Regions from separate parts of the Homo sapiens genome. Here all the other regions are linked to region 2. The links come from fine-mapping of genetic effects on gene expression. A gene starts in region 2. Each other region holds a variant in brackets. All regions are shown on one strand. Distances are between the middles of the regions. Region 1 overlaps DOCK5 (dedicator of cytokinesis 5). Region 2 holds the start of DOCK5 (dedicator of cytokinesis 5). Region 3 overlaps DOCK5 (dedicator of cytokinesis 5). Region 4 has its middle 64 kb from the start of CDCA2.

Region 1 (7,705 bases), 200 kb after region 2:
GCTACTCAGTAAGTATCATGGAGAAAAGGACTTAGGGAAGGGGACTAGAGAGGCAGGTGTTGGGGATGGAGTTACAATTTTAAATACAGTAAACAAGAAAGACTTCAGAAAGAAAATGGCATTTTTGCAAAAACCAGAAAAAAAGTTAAAGAATAAGCTATGCAGCTATCAAGAGGTTGAGCAAAGGTCCCAGACCTTGAGAATAGCAGGTCCAAAAGCTATGAGGCTGGAGTAGTTGTGTACAAGAGGGTGTATAGGAGAATGGGGCAGGTGGCTGTTGGTACCAGATAGCAGAGGGCCTCCCAGGGCTTTCTAAAGTGTTTGCAAAGTTTGGTTTTGCACGTACTCAAGGGGAGGTACATTTGGAACATCCAAAAGGCACAAGTCAACCATTAGCTGTATAGATCTGGAACTCAAGTGAAGTTACAGACAGGAGAGAAAAGTTGGTGAGTTACTTGTATGGAGTTAAAATAACCGTGGTTGGGGATGAGGTGGACCAGGCAGAGGAAAGAATAAAGAGTGGAAGGTCTGAGGCCAAGCATGGTGACTCATGCCTGTAATCCCAGCACTGGTAGGCCAAGGCAGGAGTCTTGCTTGAGCCCAGGAGTTTGAGACCAGCAGTTTGAGGCCAGCCTGGGCATCATAGCATGACCCCGTCTCTATAAAAAAATTTTTTAAAAATTAGCCAGGCATGGTAGCATGTGCTATGGTCCTAGCTACTCAGTAGGCTGAGGCAGGAGGATTGCTTGAGTATTGGAATTAGAAGTGACAGTGAGCTGTGATCAAGCCACTGCACTCCAGCCTGGATGACAGAGTGAGACCCTGTCTCAAAAAATAAAATAAAAAATAGAAAGAGTGTAGGGTCTAAATGCATCAGGGTCTAGTGTTAGCTCAGCTTCAATCCAGGTCAACATAAAAGAACAACCCCTGCCATAGCCGTTACATATGCCTGCATGTCCCATGAAATCAGAAATGTGACCACAGAGACAGCAGTGATTCTGTGAAATCAAGAACACCAGACTTTCAAGTCGAAAGCATTCTCGTCTAAATCACCTGCTGAGCGAGTGTGCAATTTTGGTGAAATCACGTAATCACTGAGTCTTGGTTTTCTGATCCGTAATTTAGAAAAATAATGCCTACATCGCAGGAAAGTTTTGAGAATTAAGTTAATAGCATATAGGAGTGCTTTATAAACTGTAAAGTAGTTTAGAGATGTTAACATACCTCAAAGGCATACTGTAGAATATAAAATCCTCAGGAGTGATATAACCTCACTGCCACTCTCTTCTATGGGATATTTCCCTGAATTCAGAATATTTAAAATTACATCATCCTCTCCTTCCAACCCAATGAGATCTCATTATCTCTTTTGTTTCTGTCAGGGGTACCACTGTTCTTCCTACTCCAAGACCAGTGACTTTTTTTTTTTTTTTTAAGAGGTCTCGCTCTGTCATCCAGGCTGAAATGCAGTGGTGTAATCACAGCTCCCTGCAGCCTTGACCTCCCAGGCTCAGGCAATCCTGCCTCAGCCTCCTGAGGAGGTGGGATTACAGGTGTGCACCATCACGCCCAGTTAATGTTTTTATTTTTTCTTAGATATGGGGTCTCACTATCTTGCCCAGGCTCAAGACCAGTGATCTTTGAATCAGCGTCGACTCCCCTGTCTGCCCTGCCCTTCTCCCGACACCAAAGAAGCAAACACTGAATGCTGTTACTTCTGTCTCTCCTTCTGTTACTTTTCCTTCTTCTGCTCAGTCCAGCCTGTGAGCTTTCAGTTGGGCATAGATGCCACTGTTGGCTTACATTGTCTACACTTCTTCTTTCATCATGCATCTCCTGCCTTCCAGAACCTCCAGTGAACATTCCAAGTCTTTGAAACCTCTGCCTGCCATGCGAGACCATTCATTTTCTGGCTCATTCTTCCAGTCCAAGCTCATTTCTTCTCCCAGAATTCTGTGCTTTCCGCCCCTGGGCCTGACTCTTTCCACATACCCACCTGGTCCTTCGCACCCCTTCTCTTTACGCTTCCTTATCCCATTCATCTGTCTATGCCCATCTAAGGCCCATGTCTTGCTTGAAGCCTTCTCTTTCCAGTCGAGCTAATTCTTCCTGACCTGCTTCTGTGATTCCTTTTACAGTTATCGTCTGCATCATACAACTAGCGTTGTATTACACTCTGATCCTTTACCCACCATTGTTTCATCTGAATGATGGAATTTCAACAGGCTTGAGTCCCATAGACTTTTCCTAACTTGGAAAAGTTTTATCATATATTCCAAAAGATCCAGTAGTTTTTACTCCCTTCATTCAGTGTTTGCCTGGAAAGTGTAATTGCCCTCACGGTACTTACACTATCATGTTTACTAATATATTTACTTGCTTGTTTTTTATTCTCTCCTCTAGAAGGTAAGTTCTGTGAGAGCAAGATCACCATTGTATTCCTGTTGTCCAGCTGATCTTCTCTTTGTGCAATACATATTTTTATATGAATGGACAAGTGATTTTGAAAGACATTTTACAAGACAACCTGGGCCCAAGTGTTGCTTAAAAAGGAATCATGTGTGGGCTACCAATGGAAACTGCTCATTTCAAACATGGCTATGTTTGCACTTGCCCAGGCAACCACACCTGTGAGACAAATTACTCCCATGCCTGGGGCCTAGGAAATCTCTTTGGGGAAAAAAAAATGATTAAAGAGATTATATTTACAGTCTAGAGTGGAGAAAATAGTATTTAATGCAGTAATTTTCTATTAGACTTTCAGGATTGGCTGGGGACTGTGGTACATTGCTTCTGTTCTCTGTCACTCTGTTTCTGTGCCAGAAGACACATTGCTTCTCCTCATTCTCTTATGCAGTGCTGTTTAAGTGGTGGTCCACAAATTGTTGCTGGATGGTGATGAGATCGATTAGGAGTTTATACCTCAATGTAAATTAATGCACTTCCTTCCTTCCTTAAGAATGTCTTGCCATGAAAATATCAGCATGCCTGTGGATGTCATTGATTTAAATGAGGGCACAAGTTCCGTATTTCCTTGCAGATGGGTCCAGACTGTTTGCAGACTGGCCATGGTCCTTGGGCCACACTGGAAGAAGAACTGGGCTAAGTATTTTTTATGCCTGTGATTTAACTTCTCCAATAAACCGCAGCTCTTGTAGGATATGATGGTCGCTGTCAGGCAAGGACTAGATTTTCAGTGAGAACTTGATGGTGGGGATTGAACGTTGGCTGGGGAGTGCAGTGGCTACCTCAGTACCCGGAACTCCAGTTGCCTCTCCACTCTT[C/A]CTATGTAATGACTTCCCTTTCTGTGTCTCACCTGCAGAATAAAATCTTCATCTATCGGGGAAAGGAGTATGAGAGGCGAGAGGACTTCAGCCTGAGGTTGTTAACCCAGTTCCCCAATGCGGAGAAGATGACCAGTACCACGCCTCCTGGGGAAGACATCAAGTCGTCCCCCAAGCAGTGTATCCTTTCCGGGGGGAGTATGGCCCCGAGGCTCTTATGGCTGTGCACAGCCCCAGCTAAGCCAGAGAACATAGGAGCTACAGTCCCTTCTCTGCAGACACACCATCTTCTCAAGCATTCTGACACAGGTTCCCATTCCATGTAAAATCTTTGGGACCCTAATAGCATTAGCTGGTGGTGATGACATAACAAAAGAGGAGAGATAATAGACAAATGATGGATATGAAATATACTTCGTAGCCAGATGGGGAGCTTAAGTGGAATATATACTTTCTATTGTGAATTCTGGATTCTGTTGTAGACTTTGAGACAGTATCTCTGTCCTGGTGGGTTGGGGAGCTAAGACTTTCTAAGACTTGATCATTAAATCAGAGCAGGAGCGCTTACACTTGAGCTGCTTTTGAAGCCTAACTTTACCATTTACCAGTTGTGTGATGTTGGATTTTAACCTCTCTTATCCTCAGATTCTCCATCTGTGAAAAGAGAATAAGAATATCCCTCATGTAGAGTTGTTGTGTATAGTAGAGATAACACATTCAAAATACCTAGCACAGTGCCCAACTATGGCACTGGATAAACAGACGGGATCCAAAGATAAAAGTAATTCTTGTTGCCTGGGCTCTGATTCTGGTGATTTCAGAGGGATGCTTGTCCCAAGAAATTGTTTAAATCCATTTCTAAGTACCTATTTCCTGATATTGCATTGATGTCTATTTCCCTATGGCAAGGATTGTTTGCCAGATGTCTGACCGAAAAAAAAAAAAGGGCCCTAGGATTAATTATAATCACTGAATAAGGCATTCCAGTGATACACAAAGGAACTCCCATTTTCAGTGTGGTCCTGGCATTGGGGTCAAAGGGAGTGATTGGTGCTGGTGGCATTTCCGGCTGTGAAGCAGGAGGAACAGGGGTGTTTGGTGTCTGACACCTTCACGACCCCAGCCCCTCTCCTTTCCTTAACGAGCTCTTCAGACATGCAGTGCTTCACTGTAAAGCCAGTGATGAGCTTGCCGCCCAGCTACAAGGATAAACCTGTTCCAGAGCAGATCTTAAAGTAAGTGGTTTTTCATTTAAAAAAAAAAAAAATCTGTGTCTAGGCACAGTGGCTCACATCTATAATCTCAACATTTTCCGAAGCTGAGGGAGGAGTATTGCTCGAAGCCAGGAATTTGAGACCAGCCTGGGCAACAAAGTGGGATGCTGTCTCTACAAAAAAGAGAAAAGTTTGTCTCTCCCTCACACCTGTTTGGAGTACATCAAAACCAAAGCCTTACATTTATTACAGTTTGCAAGACCTACTGTCTGTTCTACTTTGAGTGTAAGATAAAAGCTTGGTAATACAAAGGGATGTGGGGGTTTTGGTTTTTTTAGGCAGAGGAAAATCAGAAATTTCACACCTAGCTTACAGATCCCTGAGCTTTTATTTTCACCCAAAAGCATCGCAGAGGAGTGGCTGGTCCCCAGTGATGGAGGGGCTCATTCCTTGTCTTGAAAAGCTGAATGCTAACAGTATTGAAAGAACTGTTATAAAACTAGACTAATGAGATCACAAATGTATGTGTAAGTGCATACACCTTTTTTTTTGTTTTTTTTTGAGACGGAATCTTGCTCCGTCACCCAGGCTGGAGTACAGTGCGTGATCTTGGCTCACTGCAACTTCTGCCTCCCAAGTTCAAGCAATTCTCCTGCCTCAGCCTCCCAAGTAGCTGGGATTACAGGTACACGCCGCCACACCTGGCTAATTTTTTGTATTTTAATAGAGACGGGGTTTCACCGTGTTGCCCAGGCTGGTCTCAAACTCCTGAGCTCAGGCAATCCGCCCACTAAGAGACAGGGTCTCTCTGTCAACTAGGCTGGCATGCAGTGGCACGATCATAGCCCACTGCAACTTCAAACTCCTGGGCTCAAGAGACCCTCCCTCCCACCTCAGCCTCCTAAGTAGCTGGGACATACACCACCACACCTGTGTGTGTGTGTGTGTGTGTGTGTGTGTGTGTGTGTGTGTGTGTGTGTGTGTAAATGGGATCTTGCTGTGCTGCCCAGGTTGGCTGGTCTTGAGTTCAAGCGATCCTCCCACCTCTGCCTCCCGAAGTGGTAGGATTACAGGTGTGAGCCACCACACCTGGCCACATATACCTTTTAAAATTGTGTGCTGTGACTTTGAGGCTGAGGCGGGTGGATCACTTGAGGTCAGGAGTTCAAGACCAGCCTGGCCAACATGGTGAAACCCCATCTGTACTAAAAATACAAAAAAATTAGCCAGTCGTGATGGTGCGTGCTTGTAATCTCGGCTACTCAGGTGGCTGAGGTAGGAGAATCACTTGAACTCAGAAAGTGCAGCCTGCAGTGAGCCAAGATCGTGTCACTGCACTCCAGCCTGGGTGACAGAGTTAGACTCTGACTCAAAGTAGATAAATAAATAAAAATAAATAAATAAAATTGTGTGCTGTGAAATAAATTCCTAAATAATATAAAAGTAAGGTGTGAAATAAAATCAAATTGTACACTTTCTCAGGCCTTCATGTGGAGGCACTATTGATTATGAGATAGCTTAGTGGGTAAAACTCAGACCAGGCAGATGTGTTATAGGTTTTGTTGAAGTCAAGTCAAGCAGTGGTTGTTCTAAGAGAGAAAAATACAGCATTGCTTTGTCCTTCTCCAGCTACTACAGAGCCAATGAAGTGCAGCAGTTCAGATACTCCCGGCCGTTCCGGAAAGGAGAAAAGGATCCAGACAATGAATTTGCTGTGAGTTCACCCCTTTTGTCCTTTAAGAGGTAAAATTAACGGGCTGAGCACGGTGGCTCACGCCTGTAATCCCAGCATTCTGGGAGGCCGATGCGGGCGGATCACGAAGTCAAGAGATCGAGACCATCCTGGCTAATACGGTGAAACCCCATCGGTACTAAAAATACAAAAAAATTAGCCGGGCGTGGTGGCACGCACCTGTAGTCCCAGCTACTCGGGAGGCTGAGGCACGAGAATTGCTTAAACCCAGGAGGCGGAGGTTGCAGTGAGCTGAGGTCGCACCACTGCACTCCAGCATGGGCGACAGAGCGAGACTTCGTCTCAAAAAAAAAAAAAAAAAAGGTAAAATTGACATCCCAAGTGGAGATCTTCCACCTACCTAACCAGCTTCCACAGGAGAAACGATGGCACCCCTGGGAACAGAGACTTCACCTGCTAATTACCTAGACAGCAAGTACTAATTACCTAGACAGCCAGCTGTCATCTCCATGGAAAATGCTAGACTAGGAGTCCAGAATCTGGTCTCTTCCTGGGCCTGCTGCTTGTAATGACCTTGGGCTAGTCATACCTCTCTAGACCTCACATTTCCCTCTGTAGGGTGAGAAGTCCCAAGTAGACGATCCCTTTCAGCTTTAAACATCCAGAATCCTTGAATTTTATGAGAAAATTTGGCTCAGTCTCTACGAGGCATTTGAGAATAGAATCTCACTTAAGTGAACCAGGGAGTCTTGCTGTTTTCCCTGGGAATTGACCAACATTTCATGTTTTCCTCCTGGGAATTGACCAACATTTCATGTTTTCCTTCTTGCCACCAGACGATGTGGATTGAACGGACCACGTATACGACTGCATATACCTTTCCTGGGATTCTCAAGTGGTTTGAAGTCAAACAGATTTCAACAGTGAGTCATTTGAAATTGGCATTTAGAAAAAAACTTTCTGTTTCCAAATATAATAACAGCCTTTGTTGAATTCCCTCTGCAGTTCACACCAGCTTGGCCAGCCTCCTCTGGCCAACTTTGTTTTTCAAAAGAGAAATAAAAGGCATGCTTATATAATAGAGCTCCTTTGTAAAACTGATGTGACAACACCAGCCCTAAAGGTCAATCACAGTGAATGACTCTTTTATGTCCAGAGGAGTGGTGTCTGCTCAGCGATCCTGCCAGCACCCAGAAACATTTTTGGAATGCTGCTTTGGAGTTTCTTGTCAATTACATCTTCCCTCCCAAAGCCTGTTCTCTTCTTTTATTCTCTGCTAATCATATCCACAGTTACCCTAGACTCCTCCCTCTTCATCTCGCCCAAAAGCTGCTTATTTTACCTGTTTAGTATTGATTAAATCTGTTTTATTTCCCACCTCCTCATTGGCCTCCCTGCCATGCATGGCCTTCTCAGGTCCAGTTACCTCACTGCCTCAGTGGGAATTCCATTAAGGAAATCTCACCATTTCGTCCATTCTCGTGCTTAAAGTCCTTCCATGGCTCCAAGTACCT
Region 2 (7,705 bases):
GCTGGCTTTAGAGTCATTCTTGACCCAGCTTGTATCTCACATGCAGGGACAAGAACCAAGGTGTGTGGGGCCTGAAGGGTGTACGATACGGGTAGGGCTCTTTAAAAAAAAAAAGAAAAATACAAGCATATCTCTTTCTGGGGGAAAACTTTCCAAAAAAGATTGAAGCCTCACAGTAGTAGATCCCCCTGCCGTTCATGTGGCCCTCCTCTTGGTTCTTTTTCATGCTGTGATGCAATCATAGCTCACTGCTAGCCTCGACCTCCTGGGCTCAAGCAATCCTCCCACCTCAGTCTCCTGAGTAGATAGGGCCACAGGCACAGCCACCATGCCCAGGATATATATATAGTAGAGGAGGGTCTCACTATGTTGTCCAGGCTGATTTTGAACTCCTGACCTTAAGCAATCCTCCCACCTCAGCCTCCCAAAATGCTGGGATTACAGGTGTGAGCCACCACATCTGGCCAGGCTCTATTTTCACGTATGTCAAGAACCCAACATCTTTTTCACCTCCATCCTTATCCTCCTGGACCCAACTACCTTCATGTCTTGCCTGAATGACTGAAATAGCCCCCAACATCCATCCATGTGGGCCTCCCTTGCCCCTTTACAATGGATTCATACCACAGCAGGCAAGTTCAATATGTTCCAGGTTGGCTCAAAGCCCTCCAAACCTCGCTTGTAGTAGTAATATATAAAGTCCATATGCCTGCCAGGGTTCTGCTCTATCTGGCATTCCTCTGCCTCTTAGACCAAGTTTCCTCTCACCTGTTACTCAGCTCTCATTACCTAGGATCTCTGGGTGACCTGGGAACCTGCCAAACACGCTTGGTGTCCTTTGCCTTTGCTGTTCCTCTTTTCCAGAATACTTTCTCCCGGAATCTTCACTTCCTTCAGGTCTACACCTCAACCTCAGCTTAGCAGAGCTGCATTCCCAGACCACTCCATAAAAACAGCAGCACCCTACACGCCCTATCCTCCCTGCTTTGGATTTTTCTCTAATGTTTACTCTCGTTTGGTGTACATTTCTTTACTGTCTTACTCTCCCCGTCTAGACTAGAAGCTCTGTGAAGGGACACATTCTACTGTATTCACCGCTGCACCCTCATTCTTAGAGTGATGCCTGGCACTTAACGTGTAGGCATTTAATATGTGTGTGAAGAAGGAAGAAGAAATTACCTAACCTGGGAAATTAGAATCATGATATACTAATGGAGGAAGATAAATTATTTTAGGGAAGATGGTGGAATTCTTTCTGGATGTCAAGTCTAAAGTGACAGAGGAATTTCTTAAATTATTGTTAAACATTGTGAATAAATACCTATTGGTTGATGGAGAAAAAAAAAGCCAGCTCTAGTAGTTACCCACCGTGAATAGGACTTAAAAAAAATTTCAGACCTCGTTTGGTAAAAAACCACCAAAGTTAAAATGCACTAATTCTCCAATGAAACTTTACTATCTTGTTACCTTGTTTGCCTATCTATCTTTACTGTCTTTTTTTTTTTTTTTTTTTTTTAGACGGAGTTTTGCCCTGTTGCCCAGGCTGGAGTGCAGTGGCGCGATCTCGGCTCACTTATAGCCTCTGCCTCCCGGGTTCCAGCGATTCTCCTGCCTCAGCCTCCTGGGTAGCTGGGATTACATGAGCACACCAGCACGTCTGGCTAACTTTTGTATTTTAGTAGAGAAGGGGTTTCACCATGTTGGCCAGGCTGGTCTGGAACTCGTGACCTCAGGTGATCCACCCGCCTCGGCCTCCCAAAGTGCTGAGATTACAGGCATGAGCCACCACGCCTGGCCAACTACCTGTCTTTACTATCTTTACTACATGTTTGTCTTCCTTTCTTTTATATTCCTAAAACGCATGAAAACCTTCACAGGCTGCAAGGAGGATATAATTTCTCTCTAGAGGAATCTTCTTCGAAGGTGAACGTAATTAAGCTGGTCATTTACTCTACTTGCAATGTTACTTCTCGGTACAAGGTAGGGAGAAACCCCTGGATCTTCATTCTCCAAGTCTCTCCAGGAAGAAATGAATTCCAAGAGGGGAGCTCCAGAGAGGGCGCCACCTGGAGCCCAAGGCGGTTCAAATGCGCAGCCCCTTTGGGATCTTCGTCAAGAAAAGGCAGTCGTTGACGGAGAAAAGACGGGGATGCGCCTTGGCCCTTTCTCCACGGGAATGCTCTCTGGGCTGCTGGCTGGTTGGGAAAGGGAGGTCTGGGCATGAGGGTCTAAGTTTCTTCAGCTTAAGGTTGGGGGGTCCCCGGAGTTTGGGGATACAGGACTTCCAAATTAGGGCTTTCTAAACAATTTCCCTGCAGAGGATCCCCTAGCAAACGGTCTGATACTTCTGAGGAGCCCACCTCCCTTGCACCAGCTCTCCGGTGATAAAAGTTCTGCTTTCCAGGCTCTAAGCGGTGGCCCCGGGAGATTCAGTCTGCCCTGAGTCCGGCTTCTCCCGCTCGCGGCGCGGGTTCAAGCTCCAGGGGGTGAAGGCAGAAGTCAACTGCTCATTCATTCAACAAATATTTATTGCGCGCCCGCTTAGTGCCAGGCACCGGAGGTGCCCCGAGCAAGAAGCCGCTCTCGCTGATCCGTTTCCGCTCCCCAAGTGTCCGGCGCGCGCCGTGGGAGCGCAGCCCGCATCCCTCGCCCACCGGCCGCCCGGCCTGGGCGTGCCCGGCTCCTCCAGCGCAGCCCTCTGTCGGGAGCCGGACCCCCGGGACCCAGCCTCCGGGGTATCAGCCGGGTGGGGAGGGCGGGAGAAAGGCAAAGTGCCGCCAGCGTCAAAGTCCCGCCGGCCCAGGAAGCCGCTCCAGGGAAGCGCGCGAGGCGGAGCCGCAGTCGGCCCCCGCCCGGCAGAGCGCAGAGAGCGGCGCGGGCGGGAGAGGCCGGGCGCCCGCGGCTCGGAGGCGGCCCCGGCGGGCGGAGGGTGCGGCCGGCGGGAGGGACTGGGGCGGCGCCAGGAGGGGCGCGCACTGCTGCGCTGCAGCCCGGCCCAGCAGGTGACCGCGGGCGGCGCGGGCACGGGCACGGGCGCGGGCGGCGCGGCGAGGAGGCGGCCCGCGGAGTCCAGCGAAGTTTGGCGGAACATGGCGGAAGCGTCTGGGGCACGCAGGAGCGCGGGGCGGCGGCGGCCGGAGCCCGAGGAGCTGTAGCAGCCTTAGTCGCCGCCGCCGCGGGGCGAGGTCGCCGCCATGGCCCGCTGGATCCCGACCAAGAGGCAGAAGTACGGGGTTGGTGAGTGCGCGCCCCACCTTGTCCCGGCCCGACCCACGCGGCCAAGTTCGCGGACAGCGGCCCTGCCAGGTTTGCGCAGAGCCCGGCGGAGGACCCTGGCCGGGGGCTCGGCCCGGCTGCGCAGCTCTGGGAGCCGGGGACGGTAGGAGTCCTCTCCAGGGAGCGCCGATGGGGAAGTCGCCCAGGGTTTGGGGACTCCGAGTGCTTCCAAGTGCAGCTGAGCTTCGGGACCGTAATCCCGCTCTTGCATCCCAATCTCCGGCACTTCACACCAGGGAAATGTCAACGCGAGGGGGGCGCGCCTGCTGCTCTTTTGGGGCCGCAGCTCTGTGGCTCGCCCCGGTGCGCCCAGCGTGGGTTTCACCTGGGAGTAGGTGACCAGCCCGGGTCGGCACATGGACTGGTGCTCATTGTCCCAGTGCTTTCTGCCCCCCGCTTTCGTAGGTTCTTCTCAGACGCCCCTTAAGTGAGGAGTTGAGGGTGGAAAGCCGCCCTGCCCCCTTTCCTCCAGAGACTGGGATCTTGATGACAGTTGTGAGCTGGATGGAAACTAGAGTCGTGGCGTGGAAGTGATGGAAGGGACAGGAAGTTGTGGCACGGGAAGGGGGTGGCTGGCCCCTGGGGCTGTTTGTGCGCACTCATCCCCTAACGGAGCCTGTCTGGAGAGGGTGTAAGGCTGCCTTCCGGATCCTGAGTTTCATCCTGGAGACGAGAAGAGGACATTTTATTAAGGAAACTGTGCCAGACCCCGTGCTGGGCACTTGGCATTCAGAACAGCGGTGCTGGAGAGCCCCGGGTTGTGCGCAGGGGTTGCTGGTGGTGGTGCTTTGGCTCCGAAACAATAGATGTGCGGGGATTTTGACCCAGGTGGAAAGTCAGGCTCCTTTGGCTTTTTATCAAGGATTGAAGTTATTGAGGGCCTGTGGGAAGACTTCTGCCCTGAACGGGGTGATTACAATGGCAGTTAGACCTGGGGTGATTCCCTACAATAAACACGGCTGAGTGTGTTGCGAATTTTATCACTTCCTCTCAGATCCATTCATTTGGCCTGTTTGTAATTTAGTCTTTGACTTTACTCCCTTACTGAGGTCCTGTTTTTCCTCACCTCACTGGTTAATGAAGTGCAGTCTCAATTAAGAGCTACTCAACGTGTCTAGGGGCTTTTCAACTCTGTAGCCAGGAGTCAGGGTTTTTTGTTGTTGTTTGTTTTGTTTTTTAACAGTCTCATATTTACTATATTATTCTTAGGTTGTGATCCTTTATATATTTATTATTTTTTGTTTTCCCTCAATTCAAAAGACATTTTCTTTTTTGCTCTTAAGTTGCTTTTAGAATCTTAGTCTCTCCCTTAGCTGCATCTCAGAAATGGGTAGAGATGTTGCTTCTGCCTCAGGGCTCTTTTTTTTTTTTTTTTTGGTTTGTTTGTTTTTGAGACGGACTGACGAGGGAGTCTCACTCTGTCGCCCAGGCCGGAGTGCAGTGGCGCAATCTCGGCTCACTGCAAGCTCCACCTCTAGGTTCCAGCAATTCTCCTGTCTCAGCCCCCCTCCCCGAGTAGCTGGGATTACGGGCTTGCATCACTACACCTGACTAATTTTTGTATTTTTAGTAGAAACCAGGTTTCGCCATCTGGGCCAGGCTGGTCTCAAACTCCTGACCTCAGGTGATCCGCCTGCCTCGGCCTCCCAAAGTGTTGGGATTACAGTCATGAGCCACCTCACCTGGCCCCTAGATGAAAGCATATTTACAATGCCCAATCACTACAGAAATGTTATCAACTCTAATTTTATCAGGATTAAAAGCTCTTTTCAAAACTATTCAGTTGAGGGTAATTAATGCAAACATGTTTCAAAAATGTGGTTTTTATTGCCATAGTCCTAGGAGCAAGTATAATTGTTTTTAATATTTTGTTTTTATGTTCTGGAGTCAGTTTACTGTGTCACTTATCAGTCAAGAAAAATATTTGGGCCAGGTGCGATGGCTCACGTCTGTAATCCCAACAATTTGGGTGGCAGAGGCAGGAGGATTGCTTGAGCCCAGGAGTTCAAAACTAGCATAGCAACATGGCAAACGGGTCTTTACAATAAATACGAAAAAAATTTAGCCGGGCATGGTCGCCTGTGCCTGTGGTTCTAGCTACTGAGGAGGCTGAGGTGGGAGGATAGCTTGAGCCTGGGAGGTTGAGGGTGCACCGAGCCCCCATCACGACACTGCACTCCAGCCTGGGTGATACTGTGAGACCCGATCTCAAAAAAAAAACTATATATACATATATATACGTATATATATATATACACACACACACACACGTATACACACACATATATGTATATATGTATATACATATATATGTATATATGCGTATATGTGTGTGTGTGTATATATATATGTATATGGAAATATGGGTGGAAATTGTGTGTGTGTGTGTGTGTGTGTGTGTGTGTGTAAAATATTTGGATTGCATTTCCAGGGCCTAGGTGTTAGGGAAACTGCTCCAGGATATAATTCTGAACACTTATTTCACCAGACATAGATTCTGGTTTGTCTGGGTTTGACAAAAGGACCCACAGTTGGGATAAATTAACTGAAGAGAGAAATCTCCATTGCTTATTGCTAAAACTCATTGTTTTTGTCACCTCCTTGCTTATGTTTATGTCACCTCCCTGCTTGGAAGTCTCTCGTGGTCAACAGGATAAAGTCTGAGCCTCCGTTCCAAGGTTCCTATAATCTGGTTCAGCCTATCTTCAGCATTATCTCTCGAGGCTTCTTTCACTAGCTCTCCAATGCAGACCAACTGCCCTTCCCACTGTTGTGCAACATACCCTGCAGAGTCCCTCCTTTGGGACTTTGCTCCCATTGTGCCTGTCCCTGCCAGGAGTGCCCTCCCAACTCTGCCTCAGACAGCTCACCTTTCCTTGAGGGCTCAAATCCATTCCTACTCCCTTCTTCAAATTTGCTATTTGTCAGACTGTCCCAAACCTCCTTGCTTCTTCCTCGCAGTTCCTGGACTGTGCCATCCTTGGGTTCAGTGAATCAGACCATTGTGGTTTTGTATTCCTAGCACTCAACAGGTGTACCAGGTATTAGTGCATTCAGTTTGCTTGTCCTTGATGTTGGGGTGCCGTTCTAAAGTACACTAACCTAGCTTGTCTGGTAATTGAATGCAGTTTTTTCCTCTTCTTTTTCTTCCCATTAGGCATAACATCTCATTCACCCCAATATGAGTTGAATTTTGTTTGGTTAGATGGAGGAAGGGAGAGCCTCCACTCTGTCTTTATCTCTGCAAGTAAGAGAATGAGATATTCTGCTGAGAAAACAAGGAAGCATGGAGCAGACAGACTTTCTTAAATATAGTTGGGAAAATTGGCTTTCTGGACTTCTCTAAGTGTGTACTGGTCAGATTTGGTTTCTGGATGAAGGAACCGTAGGATAGTCATGTTGAAGCATTTGGATGACTCAGAGCTAGCTATGACTTTGCCTGTTGTGCTCTAAGAGGAGTGTGCCTCTGCAGAGCTAGTCTGTGTGAGGATAGAGCTTTGGACTCAGTATGAATTGTGCCTGCTGAAGCTGGCAGTCGCTACTGTCATATTTTATCTTGGTGCCACTCTTGGCTGTTCCTGACATATCCTAGATGTTTCTACAGGGACTGAAATGCAGCCTGTCTGGGCTTTCTTAGTTCTTAAACAGCAGTGTTGGCTCAGGCTCTAGCATTAAGTGGATCTCAATGGTTTCTGTGTGTTATCAAGTGAAGTGACTGATCTATTTGATTCTTTAAACTTATGGTGCTCTAGTACCCCAGTGTTAAGTGCTCAGTGGCTAAGTGTTCTTCCCTGGAGACGTGGAAAATGTGCTTTTTTCTCATCTTTTTTCTTTCTTTGTTTCTCTTTTCTCTCTCTTTTTTCTGTTTGAGCATATGAAGATATAAAACACTTTTAAGCAAACATTAGTGATAAATATCCAGAATAGTCTGATTATAAAAACATTTATTTTTAAGTTTGCTTCCACACAAGCCATTATGTAAAGAATAGCCCCAGATTAGGTTGACTATGGATTCTTTGCAAAGCTTTTTTTTCTTTTCTTTTCTTTCTTTCTTTCTTTTTTTTTTTTTTTTTTTTGAGACAGGGCCTCACTCCACAGCCCAGACTAGAGTACAGTATGATCATAGCTCACTGCAACCTGCCATCTCAGCCTTCCAAGTTGCTGGAACTGCAGGTGTGCACCACCATGCCTGGCTTAAGTTTTTTGATTTTTTAAGTTTTAAAATATTAAACTTTTAAAATAATCATTTTAAAGATGGAGTCTTTCTATATTGTCCAGGCTGATCTGGAACTCTTGGCCTCGTGTGCTCCTTCAGCCTTAAGCCTCCCATGTTGCTAGGATTACAGGGGTGAGCCATGAGCCTGGCTGATTTTTTTTTCTTTTCTTCTGAGACAGGGTCTCGTTCTGTAACCCAGGATAGAGTGCAGTG
Region 3 (7,705 bases), 200 kb after region 2:
GCTTTTCTTCCTTTTCAGTGGTCTGACAAGCCCTGTGTGCCTCATTTGCTTCAGAAGGACAGTTACTATGTTTATACCCAGCAAGAGCTTAAAGAGAAGCTGTATCAAGAAATCATATCATATTTCGACAAAGGCAAAGTGAGTATTGGATTGTTTTTGTACTAGGGGAAAGAGGAAAATGACCGCAGTATCGCAATACAATTCTGATGCTCACCACTTGGAGTTAGCACTGACTACCCAGGTTCAGGGCACTGTCTCCAACGAGACTGCCCCCGCTTCAGATGCCATCTTCAAATTTGGGGGTCCCCAGTCCATTCACAGTTCTGGGCAACTGGGTATACATCTGGGGGGCTTCCACTGCCCCCTCAGGTTTAATAGTCTGCTAGAACAACCAATAGTACACAGTGAAGTGCTATATTTAACCATTCCAGTTTCATCAGGAAGAATGTAAACTGGGGCCAGCCACATGAAGGGACCCATAGGGAACAGTCTGGGAGAATCTCAAGCGTGGGGCTTCTGTGTCTTCCCCCTGTGAACTCGGGGCACCTTCCCAGCAAATCAGTGTGTTCCTCAATCAGGAAGCTCACCCAAGCCATGGGTGTACAGAGTTTTTATTGGGGTTTCTTTTTTTTTTTTTTGGTAAATATGGGGTCTCACCAGTTGCCCAGGCTGGTCTAGAACCTAGAACTCCTGGGCTCCAGTGATCCTCCTGTATTGGCCTCCCAAAGTGCCAAGACTACAGGCATGAGCCACTGTGGGGTTTCATTATACAGGCAGGATTGAATGAATCGTTAACTACACAATGAACTTGATCTTTAGCCTTCCTTTTGTCCCTGAAGATTGGGCTGATATCGCATGGCTCACAGCCCTAACCTTCTAGTCACATGATTAGTATTTCTGGCATGGCAGCCCCCATCCTGAGACTAGGAGACCACCATGAGTCACCTCATTAGCATAGATTTGGGTATGATCCTGGGGTGGGGGCACCAGGAATAACAAAGACACTCTTATTATTTGAGAAATTCTAAGAAAATTCACCGGAACTCAGGACCAAGACCAGATACATGATTTAATATACAACAATAACTCACAGCTACTGTTTATTCTTCCCTTGTGTATTCTTGAATTCTGAGATTTCAGAGGGGGACAGATTTTGCAAACAATGATTTTAAAAGATTTAATTTTGAAGTGTTTCCCAATGGCTTGTGGGCTCTGCACACATTTCCTCAGAAGCCAGAAACAATGGAACATAGCACCTTGTGAACAGGAATGAAGCAGGAGGTGACCCGATGCTGCAAGTTGAATAGTATCCGTCTAAGAGACAGCTCATGAAATACCAAAGGGGTTAGAAGGCTCAATCTGGGCTGCTAGCCTCAGACACTGAGGACGTGCTTTAGCCTGTAACTTACATGGTTATACATGCTCGGAGGCATTTCCTAAAACTCATCCACTAAGTAGGGAAATCAGTGCCCTGCATTGAAATACAGTTTGCCAAATTCCACACTATCGGGGAAACCCACCCCCAATATTTCAACATAGGTTCTTTCTATTTTCCATAAGTGTTGGCCGGCTGATAAATAAAGAGAAAGAGTACAAAGAGAGGAATTTTACAGCTGGGCTGCCGGGGGCGACATCACATATCGGTAGGACCGTGATGCCCACCTGAGCTGCAAAACCAGCAACTTTTTGTTAAGGATTTCAAAAGGGGAGGGGGTGTACCAACAGGGAGCAGGTCACATACTTCAAGGGGCAAAAAGCAGAGCAAAGATCACATGCTTCTGAGGAAACAGGACAAAGGGCAAAAGGCAGAAACTCCTGAAGAGGGTCTATGTTCAGCGGTGCACGTATAGTCTTGATAAACATCTTAACAGAAAACAAGGTTTGAGAGCAGAGAAGCGGTCTGACCAAAAATTTACCAGAGTGGAATTTCCCAACCCTAGTAAACCTGAGGGTACTGCAGGAGACTGTTTATTCTTCCTTATCTCAACTGCATAGGACAGACATTCCCAGAGTGGCCATTTATAGACCTCCCCCCAAGGAATGCATTCCTTTCCCAGGGTCTTAATATTAATATTCCTTGCTAGGAAAAGAATTTAGTGATATCTCTCCTACTTGTACGTCCATTTATAGGCTCTCTGCAAGAAGAAAAATGTGGCTGTTTTTGCCCGACCCCGCAGGCAGTCAGACCTTATGGTTGTCTTCCCTTGTTCCCAAAAAATCGCTGTTATTCTGTTCTTTTTCAAGGTGCACTGATTTCATATTGTTCAAACGCACATGTTTTACAATCAATTTGTACAGTTAACACAATTATCATAGTGGTCCTGAGGTGACGTACATCCTCAGCTTACAAAGATAACAGGATTAAGAGATTAAAGTAAGACAGGCGTAAGAAATTATAAAAGTATTATTTGGGAACTGATAAATGTCCATGAAATCTTCACAATTTATGTTCCTCTGCCGCAGCTCCAGCCGGTCCCTCCATTCGGGGTCCCTGACTTCCTGCAACACCACACAACAGTACTGTTAGCCTTTTTCCATCTCCACAAACAACATCACTACACCTACACACACACACACACACACACACCCATACACACACCTGTACACACACATTTCAGAACCAAAGTCCCACAGAAACTTCCCTTCCCCCTCCAACCAGACTTGCATGCTTTCCGAACCTGGGCTGGCAGAGCTTCCTCTCTACTTTGAAGTGCTGTAGGTGCTTGACCTGTTAAACACAGTATTGCTTTTTTGGGCGACACATGGTACTTATTCTTAATGTCCGTGCAAACAGAACTACAGAAGACGCCCCTGGCAAAGCTGCCAATATACACTGTCTTTATGATGTCAGGAAATGAAGGTTTCACTGATCTAAGGGATAAAGCGAGTGAGGAATATCTACCGAAACTCAATCCCCCAGACCACTTGCTCATTCCCAGTGACTCGCCAGTGGCTTTTGCCACTGAATCAATGACTGCCTTGTTCTCCACTTTTAACCTTACTTTCCTTTTTCTGAAGATGTGGGAGAAGGCCATCAAGCTGAGCAAAGAGTTGGCTGAGACTTACGAAAGCAAAGTATTTGACTACGAGGGCCTTGGCAACCTCCTGGTGAGTCTGGGTCAAAATATGTTAGGCCTCTGACAGGGTTGCTAAAATTAGCACTCATGAAAATGTTTCCGTAAGTTGAAAGTCAGGATGAATGGTGTTTTTTTACAATGGAAAAGTCAACTTTGCTTGAAATGAGAATGAAAAAAGATGTAGTCCAAAGGCTCTGATCAATATTTCTGCCAAATATCCTTCAGAGAAGGTTCAGGACATCTCTGGAAGTGGAGTGGGGTTGTCTCGACAGTGTGGTGGAATATTGAGTTTCAGATAGTAGTGACTCGCTTTCCACATCCCTCAGGATCTCTGTCTGCAGCTCTCTCATTCTTCCTGAAGCCATTTTTCTTTCTGTGGGCCCTCCATATTCCCAGCCATCAGTAAAGCAAAACAAAAATGAGTGCCCAGTGTTAGGCAGCCACCATTCTGAAAGCTCAGTGGAGGCAGCCACCATTCCGAATGCCCAGTGGAGGCAGCCACCATTCCGAATGCCCAGTGGAGGCAGCACCATTCCGAATGCCCAGTGGAGGCAGCACCATTCCAAATGCCCAGTGGAGGAGGCAGCCATTCTGAATGCCCAGTGGAAGGCAGCCACCATTCTAAATGCCCCAGCGGTAGGCAGACACCATTCTGAATGCCCAGTGGAAGGCAGCCACCATTCCAAATGCCCAGTGGTAGACAGCCACTCTTCTGAATGCCCAATAGAAGGCAGCCACCATTCTGAATGCCTGATGGTAGGCAGCCACCATTCTGAATGCCCAGTGGTAGGCAACCATAATATTAAATTTAATAATTTCTAGTAGAGGAGTTAGAAAAGATCAGGTCACCCATAGTCATGAAATAATCATTTATTTGAGGAGCTGGGTGTCAAGATCACTTTGTAAAAAGTTTACCAGTGT[G/A]CTATTACCAGCCCCTGGCTTCACATGCAAAAAACTGACTTATTAATTTCATCAACTGGGCTGGGCACGGTGGCTCATACCTGTAATCTCAGAACTTTGGGAGGCCAAGGCAGATGGATCACTTGAGCCTAGGACTTCCAGACGAGTCTGAGCAACATAGTAAGACACCATCTCTACAAAAAATATAAAAAATTAGCTGGGTGTGGTGGCACCTTCCTCTAGTCCCAGCTACTTTTGGGAGGCTGAAGTGGGAGGATCACCTGAGCCTGGGAGGTCAAGGCTGCAGTGAACTGTAATCATGCTACTGCACTCCAGCCTGGGCAACAGAATGAGACCCTGTCTCAAAAAAAAAAAAAAATTTCATCAACTGAACTGAGCTGAAATATTAGTAATGTAACATGTTACATACCGGTCTAAGAAAATAGTATTTTGACGAGACCATCACCTAGATAGAAGAGTAATGGCATGCTAACCATTGTAGGGGAGGGGGCTCAGGTCATTGCTCAAAGCTGTCCACGTCTGGCTGGCTATTTTGCTTTCTTTAAGGCTGACCTTGTGAGCCAAAGCTGGAAAGCCCCTCATCTTGTGAAGAATTAAAGATAAAGATGGTAGCAGATACTGAAAAACCGAACATCACCACCACCTTCTGGGCACTTATAATTTACCAGACACTTTCATCCAGACCACCTGCATGAACTACACAGTCCTTCTTTTTAAAAATGTTCTTTATTTTATTATTATTTTTTCAAAACAGGGTCTCACTCTGTCACCCAGGCTGGAGTGCAGTGGTGCAGTCATAGCCCACTGCAACCTTGAACTCCTGGGCTCAAGACATCTTCCTGCCTCAGCTGCTGGCTAATTTTTTAATTTTTTGTAGAGATGGAGTCTCACTATGTTGCCCAGGCTGGTCTCAAACTCCTAGCCTCAAGCAATCCTCCCACCTCTGCCTCCCAATGTGCAAGGATTATAGGCGTGAGCCACTGCGCCTGGCCTTGGAAGGTTCTTTATCTTCTCCCATGGGTGTCTGGTTAAGTGCAGCCGCCTTCTGTGAATCTCAGAATGCACTTTTTAACCTTTTGTAGTCCCTGAGCCCACTTTGAGAAACTGCTGAAAGTTGTGCACTGCCCCGTTACGCAGAAGAATTCCAACGTGCACACACTTCAGCATACACCCTCAGGGAGTCACAGCCTTCCAACGTCCATTCATGGAGCCCAGGTCCAAAACCTGTGATCCGAGAATAGGATAACCCTTTTCTGCCCATAGGGTGTTTTCCAAAGACCTTTCATTGCTCTGGGTTACGTGGGAAACAACAAAACAAAGTCTGACTTTTTTTTTCCCCCAACTGTGTACTTATAACCTCCCCTTGGAATGTCTTGTTTTGTTTTCCAGAAAAAAAGGGCCTCATTTTATGAGAACATCATTAAGGCAATGAGGCCTCAGCCTGAATACTTTGCTGTTGGATACTATGGACAGGGCTTTCCTTCTTTCCTACGGGTAAGAAACCTGATGGTGGTCTCCCAGGCCATTAGGAGGAGGGAAGAGACTCATTTCTTTTCCAGATGGGCAACAGGGTGTTAGCAGCTGCCGACCCGTGTTCTCGCTGTGGGAGGTAGGGGAGGGAAACCACTTCCTGAGCAGCCGGCCTCTTCACCCCACACCCCCGGACACCCGTGGTGTTCTGCAGGTCTTTTGTGAAATGACTTTTCCCAGGTGCAGTGAAAAAGGGAAAAACAGAACCATCCCCCGCACTGGTCAGCTGCTACGGGTCACGCCAGGGAAAAGTGTGGACTGATGTATTTCGTTGTTTACCATGTTTCTAGCCAGAGCTAATTTGAAAATAGGTATCCCAAGAACCAGACTGCAGGAGTATCCCAAAATAAAACATTTTATTATAATAATAATGACAAGGATGGTATTTTTCTTCCATCTCAAAATTGTGTATAATGCGATATTCAATTTATAGTTTAATAAATAAAAATTCTTATCTCTTACGAAAAGTTTCTTTTAGAGCTGAGCTTTGCTTAAACATTTATTATCCATCTGCTTTCTCCTAATTTGAAAACAAGCGATAAAGCAAGCAATTTACATTCCTAACAGTGCCTAATGAGACAGTTTATTCATTCAGTCAGTAAATATTTATTGAACATCTACTGTGTGCCAGGCATAGGGAAGGCATTAGAAAGATCTTGCTGATTACAGTCAAACATAGTCCCTACTCTCATGGATTTTACAACCTAAACTCATGAGGGGAGATTTTAATCACACATGAATGTAAAATTTAATCTGCATGTCGGACGCAGTGGCTCATGCCTGTAATCCCAGCGCTTTGGGAGGCTGAGGCAGGCAGATCACTTGACGTCAGGGGTTCGAGACCAGTGTGGCCAACATGCTGAAACGCTGTCCCTACTAAAAGTACAAAAATTAGCTGGGCGTGGTGGTGCATGCCTGTAATCTCAGCTACTCAGGAGGCTGAGGCAGGGGAATTGCTTGAACCCAGGAGGTGGAGGTTGCATTGAGCCGAGATCACACCACTGCACTCCATCCTAGGTGACAGAGCGAGACTCCATCTCAAAAATAAATAAATAAATAAACTATAACCAAGAAAGATACCCTGTGCTATAAGAATCTGTAACCAGGAAGTATTTACCCAAGTGAAATAGAAACTTACCCTTTTACAAAAAATGTACAGGAATATTTATAGCAGCTTTAATCATAGTCACCAAAGACAGGATCCAATCCACGTGTCCCTGAACTGGTGATGGGATAAACAAACTTCAGTGTATCCACACAACAGAATACTGCAGCAGCCAAAGGCAGTCAGCTCCTGATACACACAACTGCGGGCATGATTCCCACCCACATGCAGCTTGCTAGGTAAAAGAAGTTACACTTAAAAGGCTGCGTACTCTGTGGTTTTATTTATACGAAATTCTTGCCTAGGCAACGCTTCCTATCAGGACAGAAAGTAGATCAGTGGTTGCTGGCCAGGGGGAGGTTGGCTGCAGAAGGGCCTGGGGAAATTTTTGGTGGCAGTGAAACTGTTCTGTATCTTGATTGTGGTCCTGGTTATGTTTGTCAAAACTCACAGAATTTTACACTAAAAGGGGTCCATTTTACTGTATGTAGATTATGTCTTAATATTATTATTTTATTTATTTATTTATTTATTTATTTATTTATTTTTTTTTTTTTTGAGACAGTGTCTCGCTCTGTCACCCAGGATGAAGTGCAGTGGTGGAATCTCGGCTCACTGCAACCTCCGTCTTCTGGGTTGAAGCGATTCTCGTGCCTCAGCCTCCCAAGTAGCAGGGATTACAGGTGTGCACGACCAGGCCCAGCTAATTTTTTGTATTTTAGTAGAGATGGGGTTTCACCATGTTGGCCAGGCTGATCTCGAACTCCTGACCTCAGTTGATCCCCCTGCCTCAGCCTCCCAAAGTTTTGGAATTATAGGCATGAGCCACCGTGCCCAGCCTATGTCTTAATAAAAAAAAGAATCAGGGCCTGGCACAGTGGCTCACACCTGTAATCCCAGCTACTTGGGAAGCTGAGGTAGGAGAATCACTTGAGCTCGGGAGGCAGAAATTGCAATGAGCCGAGATGGTGCCACTGCACTCCAGCCTGGGCGACAGAGCCAGACTCCATCTCAAAATAAAATAAAAAAAATCAGGAAAGACTTTCCAGGGATCCTCTGTTTCAGCTGCAAC
Region 4 (7,705 bases), 340 kb after region 2:
TGAGGAAATTGGATGAAGGGTACACGGGGCCTCTGCTGTTTTTGCAACTTCCTGTGAATCCATCATTATTTCAAAATCAGTTTTAAAAAGTAATGTGCTTAAAACCACAAAAGTGTGAGCCTCAGTTACTTCATCTGTAAAATGGGAATATTAGTAATGCCTCCTTTATGGGACCTCTATGAAAATAACACAGATATTCTGTATTTGTTTTCATCAGACCAGCATCCTATGCCTTGCTCACCTATTCCCTTGATCACAGGGTACCTATTCCCTTGATCACAGGGTAACCAAAAGATGAAAAATATTCCATTGTATTGTTCATCCGCAGTGTCGTCACTGCAGCAGGTGTTCTTCCACATGCCCTCATTTTATGTGACTTCATTATCACACCCACATTACTGATAAGGAGCTGAGACTTGTTTTTTTAAGAGACAGGGTCTCACTCTGTTCCCCAGGCTGGAGTGCAGTGGCAGGATCATAGCTCACTGTAGCCTTAAACTCCTGGACTCAAATGTTCCTCCTACCTCAGCCTCTCAGGTAACTAGGACTACAGGCATGTGCCACCATACCCAGCTAGCTTTTTTAAATTTTTGGTAGAGATGGGGGTCTTGCTATGTTGCCCAGGCTGATCTCAAACTGCTGCCCTCTAACAATTCTCCTGCCTCAGCCTTCCAAAATGGGACTAAAGGCATTAGTCACTATACCCAGCTGGAAGCTGAGACTTTTAAGAGGTCATGTGACCTGCCCAAAGTCTCAGAGCTGGTCAGTGGCTGAGCTGGAATTAGGAGTCTCTCTTCCCCTCAAGTTGATTCTTCTTTGATGAAAATGCTGTACCTGGAGAGGCAATGATTTGGAGGCTGTGAAAGAGGAGAATCGAGTCTCATCCAGAAAGATAAGAGTTCTGTGCAAGACCTGCCAATGTCCTCAGAAATGGAGAGCCGCCCTCACTACGTGATTGGAGATACAATGACCATGTCTTGGCTCCACTGGAGGGATGTGTTTCCCCTTCCAGTCTTACTCTCCTGTCCGTAAGCCATAGCCTCATCCTGCATTTCTTCCAAAGGAATCCATCCCATTAGTACACACATGTCAACTACTGCAGAGCCCACTGCATTCCTTACTCCTAATTTAGATTTGTCTTGATCACATTGTGAGGAGGTTATATGGATCTAGCAAGGTCATTTTTTGTGTCATCCTCTATTGAATACACTACTTTTGGCTAAAAATTTAAATCAGCCTATCCATAGCCTTGTTCTAGCTTGTCCCTAGCCATGGAAATCAAATACCATCCATGTATCTTTTCACCATGTTACCAAAACATCAGGGGTTGAGTCTAGGTCCTACTACTCACTGCACTAAAAGCCAGTCACTGAGATGATTGTTGCCAAGGAAGAAGGCTTTAATCGGGTGCTACAGAGAAGGAGATGGGAGCTCAGTCTCAAATCCATCTCCCTGACCAGCTAAAACTAAGGGTTTATATAGCTGGGAAGAAATGAAACAATATGTAAGAAAACAGGAACTAGGGAAAGGCAAGGAAAAAATCAGGATGAATGAGGGGTCCAGCATCTCATTGTGTAGATGTGGTGATCTGATGAGTTTCACTTCTTTGATCCTTTTTTGAGAAACCTGAAGGTCACTTCCTAAGGAAGGAACTCGGATAAAACAAACACATGTTTTAAGCTTTGAGACCAGAAGGGTTGGCCGGGCTCAGTGGCTCACACCTGTAATGCCAGCACTTTGGGAAGCTGAGGTGGGTGGATCTCCTGACATCAGGAGTTCGAGACCAGCCTGGCCAACATGGTGAAACCCCGTCTCTACTAAAAGTACAAAAATTAGCTGGGCGTGGTGGCACACACCTGTAATCCCAGGTGCTCAGGAAGCTGAGGCAGGAGAATCTCGTGAACTCAGGAGGAGGAGGTTGCAGTGAGCTGAGATTGTGCCACTGCTGCAGCCTGGGTGACAGAGTGAGATTCCATCTCAAAAAATAAGACCAGAAGGGTCAATTTCTATGTTTAGTCTATGGGACTATTAAATCAGTTTCACACCCAAAGTGTGTCTACCTATGGCTTGGCAGGAGAGGTCAGGTGTGTGTGTCAGCAAATGACAGGAAGATTGCCAGGAAGTTCTCTCTAGAGTCTGGTAAAAGAACAGCTTCTGTCAGGAAGTCTTACCCTGTTCTTAGGACAGTTGTAGGGATAATCTGAGTTTAACAGCCCTCCCTCCATCCTGGGCACCTTAATTCCAGGAAGAGACAGGTCTGTACTCTGGGCAGCTGTTGGCATTTCTGTTGGGAGGTCTGGAGGGGAAACTGGCACAGGTCCTGTGTTGGGGGCTTAGGACAGCAAGTGCCAAAAGAAATCTTTATTAAGTGATAACTAATTACCAGATGGTGAGTAGAATGTAATTGTAGTTGGTACGCTGAAGTTGTGAGACTTGTTAAGAGATTTCTCCAGCTCCTTGCTCTAGTTCTACAAAGAAATTTTGGGGAGAGAATGGGAATCCCCTCCTGTAGGAGTTAATTTCCAAACCTGGGGAAAGCTACCCTCCTTTCCCCAATAGCTTTTCCAAAGAATCAATGATTTAAAAACTGTATCTTGGCTGAGCATGGTGGTTCACACCTGTAATCCCAACACTTTGGGAGGCCAAGTCAGGAGTATCACTTGAGCCTAGGAGCTCAAGACCAGCTTGGACAACATAGTGAGACCCTATCTCTATGAAAAAAATACAAAAATTAGCTGGGCATGGTGGCACGCACCAGTAGCTATTCTGGAGGCTGAGGTGGGAAGATGGCTTGAGCCTGGCAGTTCAAGGCTGCAGTGAGCTGACTGCACCACTACACTCCAACCTGGGCAACAGAGAAGACCTTGCCAATTAATCAGTCAATATAAAAATAAATCAATGGCCGGGCACGGTGGCTCACGCCTGTAATCCCAGCACTTTGGGAGGCTGAGGCAGGCGGATCACAAGGTCAAGTGATCGAGACCATCCTGGCTTACACAGTGAAACCCCATCTCTACCAAAAATACAAAAAAATTAGCTGGGCGTAGTGGCGGGCACCTGTAGTCCCAGCTACTTGGAAGGCTGAGGCAGCAGAATGGCGTGAGTCCGGGAGGCGGAACTTGCAGTGAGCCGAGATGCGCCACTGCACTCCAGCCTGGGTGACAGAGCGAGACTCCGTCTCTAAATAAATAAATAAATGAATAGGCCGGGCACGGTGGCTCATGCCTGTAACCCCAGCACTTTGGAGGCCGAGGCGGGCGGATCACGAGGTCAGGAGATTGAGACCATCGTGTCTAACACGGTGAAACCCCATCTCTACTAAAAATACAAAAAATTAGCTGGGTGTGGTGGTGGGTGCCTGTAGTCCCAGCTACTCGGGAGGCTGACGCAGGAGAATGGCGTGAACCCAGGGGGTGGAGCTTGCAGTGAGCTGAGATCACGCCACTGCACTCCAGCCTGGGTGACAGAGCAAGACTCCATCTCAAAATAAATAAAT[A/T]AATTAATTAATTAATTAATTAAATGTAAACATATAAAAGAAATGAATAAAAAACTTTTATTTCAGTTATACCCCATTTCACTTGCAAATGTTCCTGTGACAGTAAAACATCAAATTATAAAATTTCAAGATATCTTGTTTTGTACTTGTAGTTGGGATTTGCAGTACTTGACCATTATATAACATTACAAAATGATCTGATGGCTGGCAAGATGGCCGAATAGGAACAGCTCCAGTCTGCAGCTCCGAGCGAGATCAATGCAGAAGGTGGGTGATTTCTGCATTTCCAGCTGAGGTTCATCTCACTGGGACTGGTTAGACAGTGGGTGCAGCCCATGGAGGATGAGCCGAAGCAGGGTATGGCGTTGCCTCACCCAGGAAGTGCAAGGGGTTGTGGACCTCCTTCCCCTAGCCAAAGGAAGCAGTGAGGGACTGTGCCATGAGGAACGGTGCACTCAGGCCCAGATACTATGCTTTTCCCATGGTCTTTGCAACCCACAGACCAGGAGATTCCCTCGGGTGCCTATACCACCAGGGCCCTGTGTTTCAAGCACAAAACTGGGTAGCCATTTGGGCAGACACCGAGCTAGCTGCAGGAGTTTTTTTTTTTTTTTTTTTTTGTATCCCAGTAGTGCCTGGAATGCCAGCGAGATAGAACCATTCACTCCCCTGGAAAGAGCGCTGAAGCCAGGCAGCCAAGTGGTCTTGCTCAGCGGACCCCACCCCTACAGAGCCCAGCAAGCTAAGATCCACTGGCTTGAAATTCTCACTGCCAGCACAGCAGTCCGAAGTCAACCCGGGATGCTGTAGCTTGGTGGGGGGATGGACGTCCACCATTACTGAGGATTGAATAGGTGGTTTTCCCCTCACAGTTTAAACAAAGCTGCCTCAAAGTTCAAACTGGGTGGAGCCCACCCCAGTGCTGCAAAGCCACTGTAGCCAGACTGCCTCTGTAGATTCCTCCTCTCTGGGCAGGGCATCTCTGAGAGAAAGGCAGCAGCCCCATCAGGGGCTTATAAATAAAACTCCCATCTCCCTGGGACAGAGCACTTGGGGGAACAGGTGGCTGTGGGTGCAGCTTCAGCAGACTTAAATGTTCCTGCCTGCCAGCTCTGAAGAGAGCAGCAGATCTCCCAGCATGGCACTCAAGCTCTGCTAAGGGACAGACTGCCTTCTCAAGTGGGTCCCTGACCCCCATTCATCCTGACTGGGAGACACCTCCCAGCAGGCGTCGACAGGCACTTCATAGAGGAGCACTCCAGGTGGCATCTGGCAGGTGGCCCTCTGGGACCAAGTTTCCAGAGGAAGGAACAGGCAGCAATCTTTGCTGTTCTGCAACTTCTGCTGGTGATACCCAGGCAAAGAGGGTCTGGAGTGGATATCAAGCAAACTCCAGCAGACCTGCAGCAGAGGGGCCTGACTGTTAGAAGGAAAACCAACAAACAGAAAGGAATAGCATCAACATCAACAAAAAAGAACATCCACTCAAAAACCCCGTCTGAAGGTCAGCAACATAAAAGACCAAAAGTAGATAAATCCACGACAATGAGGAAAAACCAGCGCAAAAAGGCTGAAAATTCCAAAAACCAGAATGCCTCTCTCCTCCAAAGAATTACAGCTCCTCTACAACAAGGGAACAAAATTGGACGGAGAATGAGTTTGACAAATTGAGAGAAGTAGGCTTCAGAAGGTGGCTAATAACAAACTCCTCCAAACTAAAGAAGCATGTTCTAACCCAATGCAAGGAAGCTAAGGACCTTGAAAAAGGTTAGAGGAATTGCTAACTAGAATAGCTAGTTTAGAGAGGAACATAAATGACCTGATGGAGATGAAAAACACAGCACGAGAACTTCGCAAAGCATACACAAGTATCAATAGCCAAATCGATCAAGTGGAAGAAAGGATATCAGAGATTAAAGATCAACTTAATGAAATAAAGCATGAAGACAAGATTAGAGAAAAAAGAATGAAAGGGAATGAGAAAAGCCTCCAAGAAATATGGGACTATGTGAAAAGACCAAACCTATGTTTGATTGTACCTGAAAGTGACGGGGAGAATGGAACCAAGTTGGAAAACACTCTGCAGGATGTTATACAGGAAAACTTCCCCAGCCTAGCAAGACAGGCCAACATTCAAATTCAGGAAACACAGAGAACACCACAAAGATACTCCTCGAGAAGAGCAATCCCAAGACACATAAACGTCAGATTCACCAAGGTCAAAATGAAGGAAAAAATGTTAAGGGCAGCCAGAGAGAAAGGTCGGGTTACCCACAAAGGGAAGCCCATCAGACTAAAAGCGGATCTCCCTGCAGAAACCCTGCAAGCCAGAAGAGATTGGGGGCCAATATTCAACATTCATAAAGAAAAGAATTTTCAACCCAGAATTTCATATCCAGCCAAACTAAGCTTCATAAGTGAAGCAGAAATAAAATCCTTTACAGACAAGCAAATGCTGAGAGATTTTGTCACCACCAGGCCTGCCTTACAAGAGCTCCTGAAGGAAGCACTAAATATGGAAAAGAAAAACTGGTACCAACCACTGCAAAAACATACCAAATTGTACAGTCCATCAATACTATGAAGAAACCGCATTAACTAATGAGCAAAATAACCAAGTAGCATGATAATGACCAGATCAAATTCACACATAACAATATTAACCTTAAATGTAAACAGGCTAAATGCCCCAATTAAAAGACACAGACCGGGAAATTGGATAAAGAGTCAAGACCCATCAGTGTGCTGTATTCAGGAGACCCATCTCATGTGAAAAGACACACATAGGCTCAAAATAAAGGGATGGAGGAATATTTACCAAGGAAATGGAAAGCAAAAAATAAAAAAAAAGCAGGGGTTGCAATCCTAGTCTCTGATAAAAGAGACTTTAAACCAACAAAGATAAAAAAAGACAAAGAAGGGCATTACATAGTGGTAAAGGGATCAATGCAACAGGAAGAGCTAACTATCCTAAATATATATGCACCCAATATAGGAGCACCCAGATTCATAAGCAAATTCTTAAGAGACCTACAAAGAAACTTAGACTCCCACACAATAATAGCGGGAGACTTTAACACCCCACTGTCAATATTAGACAGATCAATGAGACAGAAAATTAACAAGGCTATTCAGGACTTGAACTCAGCTCTGGACCAAGCAGACCTAATAGACATCTACAGAACTCTCCACCCCCCAAAAACAGAATATACATTCTTCTCATCATCACCTCACACTTATTCTAAAATTGACCACATAATTTGAAGTAAAACACTCCTCAGCAAATGCAAAAGAATGGAAATTGTAACAAACAGTCTCTCAGACCACAGTGCAATCAAATTAGAACTCAGGATTAAGAAACTTACTCAAAACTGTACAACTACATGGAAACCGAACAACCTGCTCCTGAATGACTACTGGGTAAATAATGAAATTAAGGCAGAAGTAGCACTAAATTCCCACAGGAGAAGGCAGGAAAGATCTAAAATCGACACCCTAACATCACAATTGAAAGAACTAGAGAAGGAGGCCAGGTGCAGTGGCTCACACCTGTAATCCCAGCACTTTGGGAGGCTGAGGCAGGCGGATCATGAGGTCAGGAGACTGAGACCATCCTGGCTAACATGGTGAAACCCCATCTCAACTAAAAATACAAAAAATTAGCTGAGTGTGGTGGCGGGTGCCTGTAGTCCCAGCTACTCAGGAGGCTGAGGCAGGAGAATAGTGAGAACCTGGGAGGCGGAGCTTGCAGTGAACCGAGACCACACCACTGCACTCCAGCCTGGGCAAAAGAGCAAGACACTATCTCAAAAAAAAAAAAAAAAAAAAAAAAAAAAAAAGAACTAGAGAAGCAAGAGCAAACAAATTCAAAAGCTAGCAGAAGACAAGAAATAACTTAGAGCAGAACTGAAGGAGATAGAGACCAAAAAACACCTTCAAAAAAATCTATGAATCCAGGAGCTGGTTTTTTGAAAAGATTAACAAAATAGACCGCTAGCCAGACTAATGAGGAAGAAAAGAGAGAAGAATCAAATAGACACAATAAAAAATGATAAAGGGAGTATTACCACTGATCCCACAGAAATACAAACTACCATCAGAGAATACTATAAACACCTCTACTCAAATAAACTAGAAAATCTAGAAGAAATGGATAAATTCCTGTACATATACAACCTTCCAAGACCAAACCAGGAAGAAGTCAAATCA

Evidence for each region. PIP is the estimated chance that this variant, and not a neighbour inherited with it, causes the effect.
Region 1: its variant is fine-mapped to the expression of DOCK5 in whole blood (TOPMed, PIP above 0.99).
Region 3: its variant is fine-mapped to the expression of DOCK5 in whole blood (TOPMed, PIP above 0.99).
Region 4: its variant is fine-mapped to the expression of DOCK5 in whole blood (TOPMed, PIP above 0.99).

Annotation. Positions count from the first base shown.
Region 1 is chr8:25,385,769-25,393,473 of GRCh38, forward strand. DOCK5 (dedicator of cytokinesis 5) reads left to right here. Exons shown (of 52, transcript NM_024940.8): 41 at 3,323-3,464; 42 at 4,438-4,519; 43 at 6,128-6,212; 44 at 7,028-7,114. Among named protein-coding and RNA genes, the nearest start is that of GNRH1, 35 kb to the right of the region's middle. The variant C/A (reference allele first, on the strand shown) is at 3,285.
Region 2 is chr8:25,181,715-25,189,419 of GRCh38, forward strand. DOCK5 (dedicator of cytokinesis 5) reads left to right here and starts at 2,975. Exons shown (of 52, transcript NM_024940.8): 1 at 2,975-3,237. The coding sequence starts at 3,195. LOC124901912 (a long non-coding RNA gene) reads right to left here and starts at 2,663. Exons shown (of 2, transcript XR_007060861.1): 1 at 1-2,663. RefSeq lists silencers at 2,793-2,872, 2,883-3,052, 3,223-3,272.
Region 3 is chr8:25,377,287-25,384,991 of GRCh38, forward strand. It overlaps DOCK5 (dedicator of cytokinesis 5), which reads left to right. Exons shown (of 52, transcript NM_024940.8): 38 at 19-138; 39 at 3,019-3,108; 40 at 5,388-5,492. Among named protein-coding and RNA genes, the nearest start is that of MIR6876, 36 kb to the left of the region's middle. The variant G/A (reference allele first, on the strand shown) is at 3,999.
Region 4 is chr8:25,519,040-25,526,744 of GRCh38, forward strand. No RefSeq gene overlaps it. Among named protein-coding and RNA genes, the nearest start is that of CDCA2, 64 kb to the left of the region's middle. The variant A/T (reference allele first, on the strand shown) is at 3,497.